Homo sapiens: one gene and its partner. The protein of the gene in region 1 interacts with the protein of each later gene in a pairwise test. Each region holds a gene or a part of one and is shown on either strand. Other genes may lie near its edges. The genes, in order: LMBRD1 and ABCD4.

What was found.
Region 2: the proteins of LMBRD1 (region 1) and ABCD4 interact in binary tests that used the Homo sapiens proteins (3 or more experiments, as listed by UniProt).

Annotation. Positions count from the first base shown.
Region 1 is NC_000006.12:69,793,942-69,802,132, forward strand, and holds the start of LMBRD1 (lysosomal cobalamin transport escort protein LMBD1), read right to left. Parts: upstream 3,070-8,191; 5' UTR 2,941-3,069; coding exon 2,872-2,940; intron 2,669-2,871; exon of another isoform or gene 2,353-2,668; intron 1-2,352. UniProt on the Homo sapiens protein: Lysosomal membrane chaperone required to export cobalamin (vitamin B12) from the lysosome to the cytosol, allowing its conversion to cofactors. Targets ABCD4 transporter from the endoplasmic reticulum to the lysosome.
Region 2 is NC_000014.9:74,299,771-74,306,932, forward strand, and holds the start of ABCD4 (lysosomal cobalamin transporter ABCD4), read right to left. Parts: upstream 3,165-7,162; 5' UTR 3,143-3,164; coding exon 3,105-3,142; intron 499-3,104; coding exon 380-498; intron 1-379. UniProt on the Homo sapiens protein: Lysosomal membrane protein that transports cobalamin (Vitamin B12) from the lysosomal lumen to the cytosol in an ATP-dependent manner. Targeted by LMBRD1 lysosomal chaperone from the endoplasmic reticulum to the lysosomal membrane.

The DNA of each region.
Region 1 (8,191 bases):
ACTCCTGAGCTCAACTGATCCACCTGCCTCAGCCTCCCAAAGTGCTGGGATTACAGGTGTGAGCCACCACACCTGGCCCATGTCCTGAATATTTAGTAGATGATTGGCAGAAGTTCTCCAAGTGTGAAATCCCTAGGCCCTGGTAGTCCCCAGAATCCTTTCTGGAGATTCAGAAGTTGAAAACTATTCTCATAATAAATACTAAGATGCTATTTGCCTTTTTCACTGTGCTGACATTTGCACTCATGGTTCATAGCCACAGTGGGTAAAACTACTGGTGCATTAGCGTGAATCAAGACAGTGGCACCAAACTGCACCAGTAATCATTGTATTCTTCACCACAAGTTCAAAAAGGGACAATTTAAATTAAGACTGTGCTTCACAAAGCAGCATAAATTCATTTTATTGAAATTCAACCCTTGACTCTTTTTAATACTTTGTGGGGTAAAATATGAAGCATGCGTACATAAAGTCCTGCTGCATACCAAGATGTGATGGCTATCTCCAGGAAAAGTTTAGAGTTAAAAGCTAAACCAACCACTCTTCAAGGAACACCATTTTTACTTGAAAGAACAATTGTCAAACTGGTTATTCAGACTTCGCTTTTTGGCAGATTTTGTCAAATGAACAAAGGGAATCTATCACTTAAAGAAAAACTGACAGTATTTGATACCAATGATAATTATGAGTCAAACTTTCAAATGAAAATTGGATTTTGAAAGACTTACATCCACAAGTATGAGCTTGACAACTCTTCAATACTTAGAATTTTCAGAGACATTTCTGACAAGATCAGTTGTAATTTAATGAAATGTGATATTTTGATATTGTGTAATGAAACGTATCCATATTTAAAAGATGTGCATAACTCAGTAAACCAACATTTTCTAAGTGGCCATGGCATCATGTTATAAAACCATGCATGGGTAAAAGAGCCTTTCAAAGTGCAAGATGGGCTAATGGATTTTAATGTAACAATGAATGAAATGCTCATTGATAGGGTTTCAGATTCCACCTTGCAGCTGACATGAATCTTCCACTTGTTGAGCTTTGGTGTAGTGTCAAAAAACATCCACAATTATCTGAAAAACGCTCCTCTGTTTCTGACTACCTATCATTGCAGCTGTATTTTCTCCATACACTTCGACTAAAATAACATACCCCAAAAGACTGAATGTAGAAGGCAACAAAAGAAACCAGCCTTTCTTCTAATAAACCAGGATTTAAAGAGATTTGCAGAAATTTAAACAAAAGTCCTTCTTCCTAATGCTTTTATCCACGACAACATTCAATTCTGATTTTATTTGTCCTTGCTGTAATATTGCCAACTTAAATGGCCTCTCTTCTTCATCTATCCAAACTCTACCACAATTCTCATTTTCTTCCAATATTGTTGTCTATTCTCTTAAGTCCTGCTTTATTTATAGTCACACTTTGGCTTTCGGTCCATAAAATACATGTTTCAAGAATTTCAGTTTTCTCACTTATCTTCAGGCCCTCTTTAAAGCCGTATTTTGTTTGGTTTACATCCTCTTACAATTCACACCACTTCTGTACCGTAAATGTTTATTAATTTATAACTGCCAAGATAGTCTCACGTAACTTTCATACATTACATGCTTATTTATTTTTTTCTAAACAAACTAAATCTGATGGACTGGAAAAGCCAGGGGGCTCTCCAAATACAGGACTGGGTGGCTGCAGAGACCACAGTCAACCTTTAGGGTTTCATTTCCTCCAAGAGAGGACTAACATGTTCCAGGGTAAAGGCAGTGTTTTTATCTGTGACAGTGATGGCAGTAACAAGAGGATCCTTTTCTTAAATTTTCACACCATTCTTTTCTTTTATTTTCTTTTTTTAGTCTCTACTGCAAAAATCTACTAGAACATACTACATAGGTACCAGACACCAACTGGATCTGACAATTAAAGTAAAACCAAACAAGCCTGATTTCCAGAACTGGAGGTTTTTGTTTTGCAATGCAAAAAGGTCAAAATACGTGAGAACAGAAAGTAACTACAGCCTCGGACGATGAGAAAAGAGAAGATTTGAGAAGGTAGAGAAGTTATGAAAGGAAATAAATTGAACTCCCAAATAAACCAAAGGGTTTTAATATGAACAGGGAAGTAATAGCCAGGCCACTCTGAGACATTTCTATCTACACTTTGCTCACTGAATATGCAGAAATAAGATCGTTGGAAAAGAAAGCACCTGAGGTCAGACAGGTAGTAGTATATACTCCGATACTGGTAATAAAGAGGGCTACAGCTCCGCCCTCCACAGGTATCTACACCAATCAAAAAAAGATTAGAAGAGAATGTGACACCTGGAAGTCAGAACGAGCAACTCACGTCATCAAGGCAGAATCACACAATGGGCACAGAGGTTGGAGACTCACTAGCCCCAAGGGTAGGGAAAATGAGGGAAAAAACATACAGAGAAGGTGACAAGTAAACAACGCCAGCGCCTACTTAACTTGCAAAGATCCAGCGCTGCCGCCCCACACCGTGTGACAATGTTTTACAGGGGACGAAAGGCCACCACATACTTCTCAACCCCGAGGGTCTCTTCCGCCCCCAAACCCCACCGGCCCCATTGCCCAAGTCAGCGATGACGGCAAGAGCTTCCAAAAAGGACCCTGCAACCCTAGACGTCATCGGTGAAATGACAGCAAAAGAGACCGGAAATCGACACCCCCCTGCCCCCGCCGCCCGCCCAAGCCCCCAACACTAAGGAGCCCTCCACAGTCCAAGCTAAAAGCGGGGCGGGGCGAAGAGGGTCTCCGGGGCCCGGAGAGGCCAACTGCAGGGCCTGCCCCTCCCTTCCTCCCCCAGTCCAAACATGGGGAAAACTCCAAGCGCCTCCCCTACCAGTAGTAAGAGGCCGAATATGCACCAGCCGATCACCAGCTCCGCCGAGGCCGCGCCAGAAGTCGCCATCTTCGCTTCCGGTCCAGACCAACCTGAGCGCCCGGGGTGGGGAAAGGGGAGGGGGAAAGGGGAGAGAGCGCGAGATATACTGCACCCGCGCACCCTAAAGGTTAAAGGGGCGGAGGGGGAGGAGCAAGTGGTTGCCAAGGAGACTGGACCCACTAGCGTCCCCTGGCGGCGAGCCGAGCGGGGGCGGGGCAGCAAGGACTGCTCAGGGGCGGGGCGCGTGCGGACGCAGTGACATCACCACGCTGCCCTCGCTGGCTTCCCTGCAAGCTGAGATGTGGGAGGGCTGCAGAGCAGGGTGTTGGCTCATAGCTGGGCAACCTATTGAGATATTTGACTCAGCCTAAGTTGATAGACTAGAACAGCAAGGGAACTCCACAAAGAATGGGCTAGGTGGACCTGGAGATCCAAGTCAATTTTAGAGGTTTATACTTCTTCACCAAAAGGAAGTTTGGCCCTCGTGTACAAGGTGGAATGTGTGTGATTAGCAGAACTCCTTACCAGGTTGCAAGAATGGCTGATGTCAGGCCTCTGAGCCCAAGCTAAGCCATCATATCCCCAGTGACCTTCACGTATACATCCAGCTGGCCTGAAGCAACTGAAGATCCACAGAAGTGAAAATAGCTTAGCTGATGACATTCCACCATTGTGATTTGTTTCTGCCCCACCCTAACTGATCAATGTTCTTTATAATCTCCCCCACCCTTAAGAAGTTTCTTTGTAATTCTCCCCACCCTTGAGAATGTACTTTGTGAGATCTACCCCCTACCCCCAAAACATTGCTCTTCACTCCACCTCCTATCCGAAAAACTGTAAGAACCAATGATAATCCCACCACCCTTTGCCGACTCTCTTTTCGGACTCAGCCCGCCTGCACCCATGTGAAATAAACAGCCATGTTGCTCACACAAAGCCTGTTTGGTGGTCTCTTCACACGGACGCATGAGACAGCTGACTCTGAATAAAAGTTGACTAGCTGCCCAAATCACTCTAATTTACTGGCACTGGTGCCCAGCCGGGATAACTGGTTGGCTGGACATGAACTTATCACATGATGTTATAGCCTTTCTATTCAGATGTATGCATGCCTGTGAATTTCCATGATAGCTTTGTATGTAAAGGTATATGCATCAGCAAACAAAACACACTGCCATAGGCCCACAATGAAGAAGAAGGAGGAAACTCTTGGGATGGCTTACCTGAGTCCACAGGGAGGAAACTCTTGGGATGGCTTACCTGAGTCCACAGGGGTGTGAGTGCATGTTTCACCACTGTGATGTAGTCAAGAAACAACTCTGAGAAAAAATACCATCATCTTTTTCCAATGTATTATGTGGTGATGAGTTATGCTCTACCTATAATCTACTTCCGGCTGGAAGCCTGAGGGAAAAAATAGGATGGTCCTTCCTGCCTGGACAGAATAAGAAGGGAATAGGGGAGAATACAGTTTTAACTTGAACTGGTACCATCATAAGCTGGCTTTAAGCCCTCTAGACCTGCAAATGTTTGAATTTCACTCTTTCTTCCTAATAATTCATATCCCTGGAGACCTCTGTCATAGCTTCCTTAAAGTGAAGAGAGGTATCGCTTCCAGGTTGATATCTCTATTCCAGATTGTATAGAGCACCCTTGACATAAGTAACTACTTCTTAGAAAAAGATTCTGTTTACATTTCAAAAGGAATCATGCCAAAAGGGACCAGATGTTCACCTAATCAATAGAGACTGCACCCAACCAGATAACGACATAACCAGGCACACTCTTTTATTATTATTATTATTATTATTATTATTATTATTATACTTTAAGTTCTAGGGTACATGTGCACAACGTGCAGATTTGTTACATATGCATACATGTGCCATGTTGAGGTGCTGCACCCATTAACTAGTCTTACATCAGGTATATCTCCTAATGCTATCCCTCCCCACTTTCCCCCACCCTACAACAGGGCCCAGTGTGTGATGTTCCCCTTCCTGTGTCCAAGTGTTCTCATTGTTCAATTCCCACCTATGAGTGAGAACATGTGGTGTTTGGTTTTCTGTCCTTGCAATAGTTTGCTGAGAATGATGTTTTCCAGCTTCATCCATGTCCCTACAAAGAACATGAACTCATCCTTTTTTATGGCTGCATAGTATTCCATGGTGTATATGTGCCACATTTTCTTAATCCAGTCTATCACTGATGGACATTTCAGTTGGTTCCAAGTATTTGCTATTGCAGGCACACTCTTTACTATCAGTCAACACCAGAGGACTCTGAGGCTATAAAAAGAGTAGAACTTCAACAGCTCAAGATAGCCATCTTAACAGACACTGTCTTACTGTCACTCATGATCAGCATCTAGCATCTGCCACCAAAGGTTCTGCTCAAATCAAAGACTCTTCCTTGCAAAATGTTGATATGCATCCTGATCAGCCGAGGACACTCTCCTTGTCCATGTTGCTCTCCTTGGATTGGTTAATCCTGTTTTCCTAACCTTTCTCTTGATGTTAAATGTTATTTTCTTTTAGAATGTTTAGCCTATAATATTTATATGTTATGTATACTACTATGTTTGGTTTGCAATATTGACTGACTTGTGGAGTGGCTAGAGCTTTGTGTCCTTGGTTCTGACTACCAAATGAATGGGTACTACTAAGGAAAATTACCTCCTTCGGACCTTCATACAGCTCATGGCTTTTATGATTGAAATAGCATCAACAAAAGTCTGACTGTGGAAAGACACAAACTTGCAGGGACTTGAGCCACTGACAGGTAGTCACTTATATCTCCTCCACAAGCCCCAGAGCATACTGAGGTATACTTAATTATTCCTTTTCCTGCTGAGGTCTTGTAATCTTCTTCTAGAAGCTCATTTAAGTTGGAGGAGAGGCCTAAGACAACCCCAAGCCAGTTCTTCCCCTTTCCCCAAATAGTCTAAATCCCCTCTGTAGGAATGATGATACATACCTTGCACCAACAACTTTGGGAGCACAGGCCAATCCCAATGTAGCTCCATTCTCCTAGTTCTACAATCAAAGGAATCAGCCCTTTTTGATTATACCCAAGAAAGTCAGCCCCTGATGCTACAGTCCACTGTAGTTCTCTCTACTGGGTCAGACACTAGCCCTCTGTGTCCTCAATTTCAGGGGCCATATTTCAAATTCTCCAAGTAGCTCCCTTGAGGCCTCCCTTACTAGGCTAAGGGTTAGAAGGTAACACCCCACTCCAACCCACCCACCCCTCCACCTCACCCACAAATACACCACTCTTTGGAGTTAAGGATGGAATTCCACAGGTCAGCAACAGTTCTCATTAAATAAATCTGTTTATGAATCTTCTCCTCTTGCTAATACATTTGTAGAAATTTTATTTGTCTGAGGGGTCTAAGAGTTATATAATAAATTCTTGAATCCCTTTTTAATTATGCATATAAGGGAGAATTCATAGTTAGAATGCAGACAAGTAAAAATAAAAATCTGACCCTCCTCCATGGAAGCCCTGGGGCCTCCGTTTTTTCTGGGGACCAGGATCCAGGTCTCCTGCTCACCTGGAGGTAAGAAAGGGAGCCCAGAGTCAGGACCCAGTGAGAGGGTTCTGGAGCTGAAAGGAAAAAGACTCCCCTAAGGATCTTGAGGACAGTCAAAATTTGCTGAAATGTCCCATTTCTGGAGAACCCTACCATCTCCATGACTGCAAGCCCATGTTAGCCTGCTGGAGAATGAGATACCATGGGGAGGAGAGCCAAACTGCTCCAGTTGACAGCCAACTCACACTCAGAAGCAGAGCCGCCTAGTCAACAGCAGCTGATCACATATGCCTGAAGGAGCCCACCTGAGCCCACAAGAATGGCCCAGTTGAGCCCTGCCCAAATGGCTGAGCAACTCCATCATGAGCTAGGAAGTCTTGCATGGTTTGTTATACAATAGCTAAGTAATATATGTACCCAGTATGAATGGGATGTCAGGATTCAATGACAGGTTGATTACTAGTTACCTGCAAACAGAAAGCACCCGACAGGTACAGATTTCATTTTCCCCTTATTTAAAGTTGGATCTCTTGTTAGATGGTGGTGAGTTATACCAAAATGCATGTAGATGTGTGCATGTGATTGGTGCTTAAATTACGCAGTCCGCCATGCCACAGGAGGAAACAGCCATGGCCTGACCATTAGGGCCAAGGCCAAATAGCAAATAGCAAAATAAGAAGTTCACCTTTAATCTATTTCCTCCATACCTAAACTTTGGAGATCAAGGATGTAGACAGATCTGAAGACATTGAGTTTCCTTTTTGAGGGGCCTTATCATCCTTTGTTTACTGTCTGATCTCTGGAAGGAAGATGGACGCCAGGTGGGCAGCAGTGGTAACTGTGGACACTTTCTTCTTGTAAACCCTGCTTTCTAGGGGCAAAAATCTCTCACCCTTGGGCCTGAGGAGAGTTGTTGGGAGGCAGAGGCTGTTCCCTCACTTCTGGCAGGAAAGAGTGTTTCAGGCCCTTCACCTTCCTTAGATCAAGAGAGTCAGAGCCCTCAGAGCTGCACTTCAGTGTGGCAGCCACTAGCCACGTGGGGCTGCTGAGCACATGGAATAGGCTGCTCTGAACTGACATGTGCTGAAAACTTAACATATAGACAGAGTTGCCAAGATTTAGTGCCAAAAGCTATATACTTCATTAACAATTATATATTGATTACATATTAAAATGATAATATTTGGGATATATTGGGTCACATAAATTATTATGATAAAAAATCTTCCCCACTGCTTTAAATTATATGTGAAATTGGAGCTTTTACTGAATCTGGACTAAATATTTTTAACATCTGATGTGCCCTCCATTGAATTAAGTCCATTAAATAAACTGGCCGAACCCTTTTGCTGCCTCTGACTGCCAAAGTTGTATTGGGCAGTTGCTTGACTTTCAGTTCGGAAAAGCCTCATATTTCTGTGTTGTTGACAAGAGTGACTAGTTACAGAGGAATAGTAATTTGAATCAGAAAGATGAGTAGAGTGAGAAGAAAAAGTCATTTTGGGGGGTAGGTATAGGCATGCATATCAACATTCTCTTTATTCTTAAGTCTAGTCATTTAACATATAAATCAGATCAGCAAGGACTGAACACATTCTCTTGAATGATGTTTTTAAATCTAAGAAGCCTCTGAATCAGACCAGAGTTTTTTTAAAATAATATTTTTATTTGCTGTTTACAATTACAAAGGGAATACATGCTCATTTATAAATATTTCAATTTGAATAATTTAGAAACAAAAAT
Region 2 (7,162 bases), on another chromosome or scaffold:
ATGAAAAGGGGCCGGGCGCGGTGGCTCACGCCTGTAATCCCAGCACTTTGGGAGGCTGAGGCGGGTGTATCACCTGAGGTCATGAGTTCGAGATCAGCCTGGCCAAGATGGTGAAACCCTGTCTTTACTGAAAAATACAAAGTTTAGTCGGGCGTGGTGGTGGGTGCTTGTAATCCCAGCTACTCAGGAGGCGAAGGCAGGAGAATCACTTGAACCAGGGAGGCAGAGGTTGCAGTGAGCTGAGATTATGTCACTGCACTCCAGCCTGGGCAACAAGAGAGAAACTCTGTCTCAAAAAAAAAAAAAAAAAAAAAAAAGATGGAAAGGGACCCCAAACCAGAGCTCCCCTCCCTCCTCTAGTCTGGGCTCACTCACTCACCCAGTAGGGTCAGGCACAAAAGGGTCAGGAACATCAAGGCATTTTGTGATGACCAAGAAGGAAACAAAACCTTCAGTATCTGCAGGAACCGCTGGAGAAATTGCAGATCTAACCTGGGCCTGAAGAGAAGGTGGGGAGGCAGAGAAAAGCCCAAGACAATAATTAAGCCTTAGGGAGTAGTTATTAAGCTCATCCACATTGTTCTGTAGAGGGTCCAGGCCATGCAGAAAGAATGGTTTTCAAATGCTGAAGATGGTAGGCTGGGAACAGACCACGGATACAAAGGAAATTCTTTGGCCAAGCGTGGTGGCTCATGCCTGTAATCCCAGCTACTCGGGAGGCTGAGTCAGGAGAATTGCTTGGACCTGGGAGGCAGAGGTTGCAGTGAGCTGAGATTGCGCCATTGCAACAAGAGCCTGGGCAACAAGAGCAAAACTCCGTCTCAAAAAAAAAAAAAAAACCAAAAACAAAAAACTTAAAAAATTACAAATGGATTAAAAATCTAAACGTGAAAAGTAACACTATCATGTTAATAGAAGGAAATGTAGAAAAATGTCTTAATGAAGATACCTTAAAAACCTATACAGGGGAAAACTGATGAATTTAACTTCATTAGAGTTAAATGTTTTTATTCAACACAGTGCCATAGATTAAGTTAGAAGACTTGGAGGTGGTATCTGCAGAGTGCAAAACCAACAAGGACTTGAAATCTTTATTTTTTTGAGACGGAGTTTTGCTCGTTGCCCAGGCTGGAATGCAACGGCGCAATCTCGGATCACTGCAACCTCCGCCTCCCTGGTTCAAGTGATTCTCCTGTGTCAGCCTCCTGACAAGCTGCAATTACAGGTGCATGCCACCACGCCCGGCTAATTTTTGTATTTTTAGTAGGAGACGGGGTTTCATCATATTGGTCAGGCTGGTCTCGAACTCCTGACCTCCGGTGATCCACCTGCCTCGGCCTCCCAAAGTGCTGGGATTACAGGCGTGAGCCACCGCGCCTGGCCTAAAATCTTTTTTTTTTTTTTTTTGAGACAAGGTCTTGCTCTGTTGCCCAGGCTGGAATGCAGTGGTGCGATCTCAGCTCAGGGCAACCTCTGCCTCCCGGGTTCAAGCGACTGTCCCACCTCAGCCTTTTTAGTGGCTGGGAGTACGGGCGTGCGTCAACACGCTCAGCTAATTTTTGTATTTTTGGTAGAGATGGGGTTTCACCATGTTGCCCAGGCTGATCTTGAACTCCTGGACTCCAGTGGTCCACCTACCTCAGCCTCCCAAAGTGATAGGATGACAGGTGTGAGCCACCGGGCATGGCCAGGATCTAAATCTAGAGCCTACAAGAATTCCTGCAAGCCAGGAACATAGGAAATCCACAGAGAAGTGGGAAGGGATATAAACAGGCAATTCAAAAAAGGGAAAACCCACGTTTAATAAACACATGAAAATGTAGGCCGGGAGCAGTGGCTCACGTCTGTAATTCCTTTATGCACTGCCCGTCGGGAAGTGTAATCCCTGCACTTCGGGAGGCCGAGGCGGGTGGATCACCTGAGGTCAGGAGTTCAAGACCAGACTGGCCAACCCCCCCATCTTTGCTAAAAATACAAAAAATTAGCTGGGTGTGGTGGCGCGCGTCTGTAATCCCAGCTACTCAGGAGGCTGAGGCAGAAGAATCGCTTGAACCCGAGGCGGAGGTTGCAGTGAGCCGAGATCATGCCACTGCATTCCTGCCCGAGCAACAAGAGCAAAACTCCGTCTCAAAAGAAAGAAAGAAAGAAAGAAAGAAAATGTACACGATGGGATACCACCTTACACCCCCCAGACTGATAAACATTACAAAACCAGCCGCCACTGAACGATGGAGGGATACCGGGAAACAGGAAGCTTTATGCACTGCCCGTCGGGAAGTATAAACTAGTGTGACCATTCCAAAGAACAATCCAGCAAAATTAGATATGACCAGGACCCAACTCTGGGGTGGATACCCAGAGAAATGCAACAATATGCACAAGGAGACAACTGCCAGAATATTCGTTACAGTGTGGCTTGTGGGGGTGTTAATACTAGAAAAAAATCTATCCACCACTAGGGGAATAAGTCTATGCACACAGCACCCCTCATGCAAGCACTCAGAAGTGAAAACAAGATGACTAGCATGGATGGACTCAAAAACACAATGTTGAGGAAAAAGGTTTAAAGAAAAATCACAGCATATTATATTGAAGAATTCGAAACCGCTATATAGATTTCAAAGTAACACTTGCACAAATTTACCCAAGGTGGACCGTAAAGCCACTTATATAACACACCAGAGTGGCTGTCTGAAAAGGGGAGTGAAAGGGGTCTGGGAATAGGAACGAAGAGAGGAAGTGATAAAATAAACAAGGAGCCTTGCATTGGCCCACAGGGTGTCAAGAACTGAGAAGGATCAACTCAATTTTGTGCACCTGAGGTTCTTCTTTTCAAAAAAAGAATGCCAGTTGCGAGGGTGAGGGTCCCACACCGCAGGAGATGGCACAAGTCCGGCCAAGAACGGAGGGGGCCGCGGCCGGTGCGGAGCGGCCTAGAGCGGCGGGAGGGCGGACGCCCCTTCGAGAGCTCCTCTTTCTCTCAGAAGTCACGGGGGCGAGACGGGGGCGCCAGGGCGGCGGACGAGGCACGGAGGGCAGGAAAGCCCATTCCCTACAGCCCGGAACTCCTGCTCCCAAACCTCCTCCCCGACCGCCCTGCTTACCTGGCGCCAGCTCCGGGCGCGGGCCCCGCGACCGCCATGACCTGAGACCCGAGGGACTCTGGAGCCCAGCTGCCCCTAGTTCAGTACTGGGTAGAGTCCGAGGAGGGGCGGGGCCCCGGCTACCACAGAGACGGCGTTTGATAGAGAGGAAGGTGCGGGAGACGCGGACTCTCCCGGAAGCGACCGACGTCTCTAAAAGTACCAGAGAGTGGACTCGGCTGACCCGGCGGCTACAGCGCCCCCATATTTTCTGGGAGACTTCCCTTTTGACAATAGGTATCCGAGAGTGTAACTACTTTATGGCAAGTATTTTAGATTCTGTGTATAATAGATGTTTTACATATTCTCCCAGAGAAGCCAGCATGATCTTTAAAAAAGTATAAATTAGGCTTCCAGCCGGGCCCGGTGGGTTACTCCTGTAATCCCAGCACTTTGGAAGGCCAAGGCGGGAGGATCGCTTGAGCCCAGGAATTCAAGACCAGCCTGGGCAACATGGCAAGACCCCGCCTTTACAAAAGACAAAAGCATTAGCCGGGGATGGTGGCGAGCGCCTGTGGTCCGAGCTACTCTGGAGGCTGAGGCAGGAGAATCACTTGGGCCCGGAAGGTCAAGGCTGCAGTGAGCCGTGACTGTGCCACTGCACTCCAGCCTGGGCGACAAAGAGAGACCCTGTCTCAAAAACAAATAAATAGATGATAATGATCGATAGATAAGATAGATAGTTGAATGAATGAAATGCTTATCAGTTGACTGATTAGTACCCAAAGGGAGGTGGGAAATGGCTCAAAAAAAACCCAAACAGCATGATCCCACAGGTCCCTAAATTTGAATCTGGATGTGTCTTCTCACTTTCCTCCAATCCTTATTAAGTTTCAACTGCAAGCCAAACACTCTACAACATGCATGTATCACTTGTCTTTATGAAAGTTGCAGTCTAGCTGGGTAGGTCAATCAGTTGACAATTACAGATTTTTTTTTTTTTTTTTTTTTTTTTGATACGGAGTGTTGCTTTTGTTGCCCCGGCTAGAGTGCAATGGCGCGATATCGGCTCACGGCAACCTCAGCCTCCCGGATTGAAGCCATCCTCCTGCCTCAGCCTCCCGAGTAGCTAGGATTACAGGCATGTGCCACCACGCCCAGCTAATTTAGTATTTTTAGTAGAGACAGGGTTTCTCCATATTGGTCAGGCTGGTCTTGAACTCCTAACCTCAGGTGATCTGCCCGCCTTGGCTTTCCAAAGTGTTGGGATTACAAGAGTGAGCCACCGCTCCTGGCCTTTTTTTGTTTTTGTTTTTGTTTTAGACGGAGTTTCGCTCTTGTGGCTCAGGCTGGAGTGCAATGGTGCTATCTTGGCTCACTGCAACCTGTGCCTCCCGGGTTCAAGCGATTCTCCTGCCTCAGCCTCCCGAGTAGCTGGGATTACAGGCATGCACCACTATACCCGGCTAATTTTGTATTTTTAGTAGAGACGTGGTTTCTCCATGTTGGTCAGGCTGGTCTCGAACTCCCGACCTCAGGTGATCCACCCACCTTGGCCTCTCAAAATGCTGGGATTACAGGTGTGAATCACCGTGCCCGGCCTACAGCTGTCTTTATGAAGTGCTATGACAAACATACCATACAGCAGGGGTTCTCAACTTTGGCGCCATTAAGTTTTGGGGCCTGATCATTCTTTGCTGTGTAGGCTTTCCTATGCAATGTAGGATGTTTAGCTGTATCCCAGGCCTCTACGCACTAGATGCCGGTGGCATTCCTTCTGACCTAGGCATCCCAAAATGTCTCTAAACATTGCCAAATGTCCCTTAGGGGAGAAAGGACCAAAATTCCAGCTTTACCCCACCCCCTAGCATTGAGAACCACTGCCCCAGAACCAAAGAGAAAGGCATTTAACTCAGCATGGGGAAAAGTGGAATCTAGAAAGACTTTGAAGAGGAAATAACTTTATTCAAGTATGTCTTTCTTATTTTGAAAACCAAAAAAATAGGATGCAATTTTTGAAAAATTAATAAGGCAACCAAAGTATTAAAGCAAGCAACGTCACCTCTCTAGGGTAATCTAGGTTTACAGATCTTGTCCCCTTTCAGTCTCAAAAATGTCCTAGTTTGGTATTCGGTGGCATTACTGTCCCAGGGTGCCTCAGCATTGTCTATTACTGTAAACTTTTAAGAAGTAGCAGGCTGGGCACGGTGGCTCACGCCTGTAATCCCAGCGCTTTTGGAGGCCGAAGCAGGCAAATCACCTGAGGTCAGGAGTTCAAGACCAGCCTGGCCAACATGACAAAATCCCGTCTTTACTAAAAGTACAAAAATTAGCCAGGTGTGGTGGCGGGTGCATGTAATCCCAGCTACTTGGGAGGCTGAGGCAGGAGAATTACTTGAACCCAGGAGGCGGAGGTTGCATTGAACTGAGATTGTGCCATTGTACTCCAGCCTGGGTGACAAGAGTGAGACTGTTTCAAAAAAAAAAAAAAAAAAGAAGAAGAAGAAGTAATACACCAGAGTTACCAGTGAGCAAGCGGGAGGCTACTGGAGTGCAGCAGAGCAGAGTAATGCCCAAATCAAAGGAACTTACTTCTTCAAGCTCTTCTGGCAGCGGTTCTGACAGTGATGTTGACAAAAAGTTAAAGAGGAAAAAGCAGGTTGCTCCAGAAAGACCTGTAAAGAAGCAAAAGACTGGTGAAACTTGAAGAGCTCTATCATCTTCCAAAGAGAACAGCAGCAGCAGCACAGATGATAACATGATGTTTCAGGTTAGGAAAATGAGGTACATTAGTGTTTGGGATTTTTTTTTAGACTTGTCCCCCAAGGCTGGAGCGCAATGGCACGATCTTGGCTCACTGCAACCTCTGCCTCCCAGGTTCAAGCAATTCTCCTGCCTCAGCCTCCTGAGTAGCTGAGACTGCAGGCACTCGCCACCATGCCTGGCTAAGTTCTGTCTTTTATGTCGAGACAGGGTTTCACCATGTTGGCCAGGCTGGTCTTGAACTCCTGACCTCAAGTGATCTGCCCACCTTGGCCTCCCAAAGTACTAGGATTACAAGTGTGAGCCACCAAGCCGGGCCAGTGTTTGGGATTTTAAAGGGTAATTGATATTAAATAATATTGGATGGATCCAGAAGGTGAAATGAAACCAGGAAGAGAAGGTATTTCTTTGAATTTGGAGCAAAGAAGCCAGCTGAAGGAACAGATTTTTTAAAATTTAAATTTAAAGATTATATATATATAATATATGTAAAAATATATATGTAAAATATATATATGTAAAAATATACATATATATATATATATATATATATATATTTTTTTTTTTTTTTTGAGACAGAGTCTTGCTCTGTTGCCCATGCTGGAGTGCAGTGGTGGGATCACAGCTGACCGCAGCCTCCATCTCCTGGGCTCAAGTGATCCACCTCAGCCTCCTTAGTAGCTGGGACTGTAGGTGCTGGCATCACACACAGCTAATTAAAAAAAATTTTTTTTGTAGAGAAGGCAGGGGTTGGGGGGAGGTGTCTCACTGTGTTGTCCAGGCTAGTCTTAAATTCCTAGGCTCAAGTGATCCTCCACCTTTGCCTCCCTAAGTGCTAGGATTACAGATGTGAGCCACTGCACCTGGCCAAGAACAGATTTCTGATACTGATGATGCAGTTAAGAAAACTGTGAAATTCAAGCCATATAAAACCTATACTGTTCTAGTGTAGTTGGTTTGTGTGTGTGTGTGTGTGTGTGTCTGTGTATGTGTGGTTTTTTTTTTTTTTTTTGACAGGTTCTTGCTCTGTGGTCCAGGTAGAGTGCAGTGGGATAATAATCACAGCTCACTGCAGTCTCCAACTCCTCCCACCTCAATCTCCTGAGTAGCTGGGGCTACAGGTATGCGCCAACATGCCTAGCTAATTTTTAAGTTTTTTTTTTTTTTTAAATAGAGATGAGGTCTCACTATATTGCCCAGGCTGGTCTAGAACTCCTGAGCTCAAGCGATGCTTCTGCCTCAGCCTCCCAAAGTGTTAGGATTACAGGGCGGAGCCACCGCTCCTGGCCTCTAGTTGTTTTAATCTGTCTTTTTAC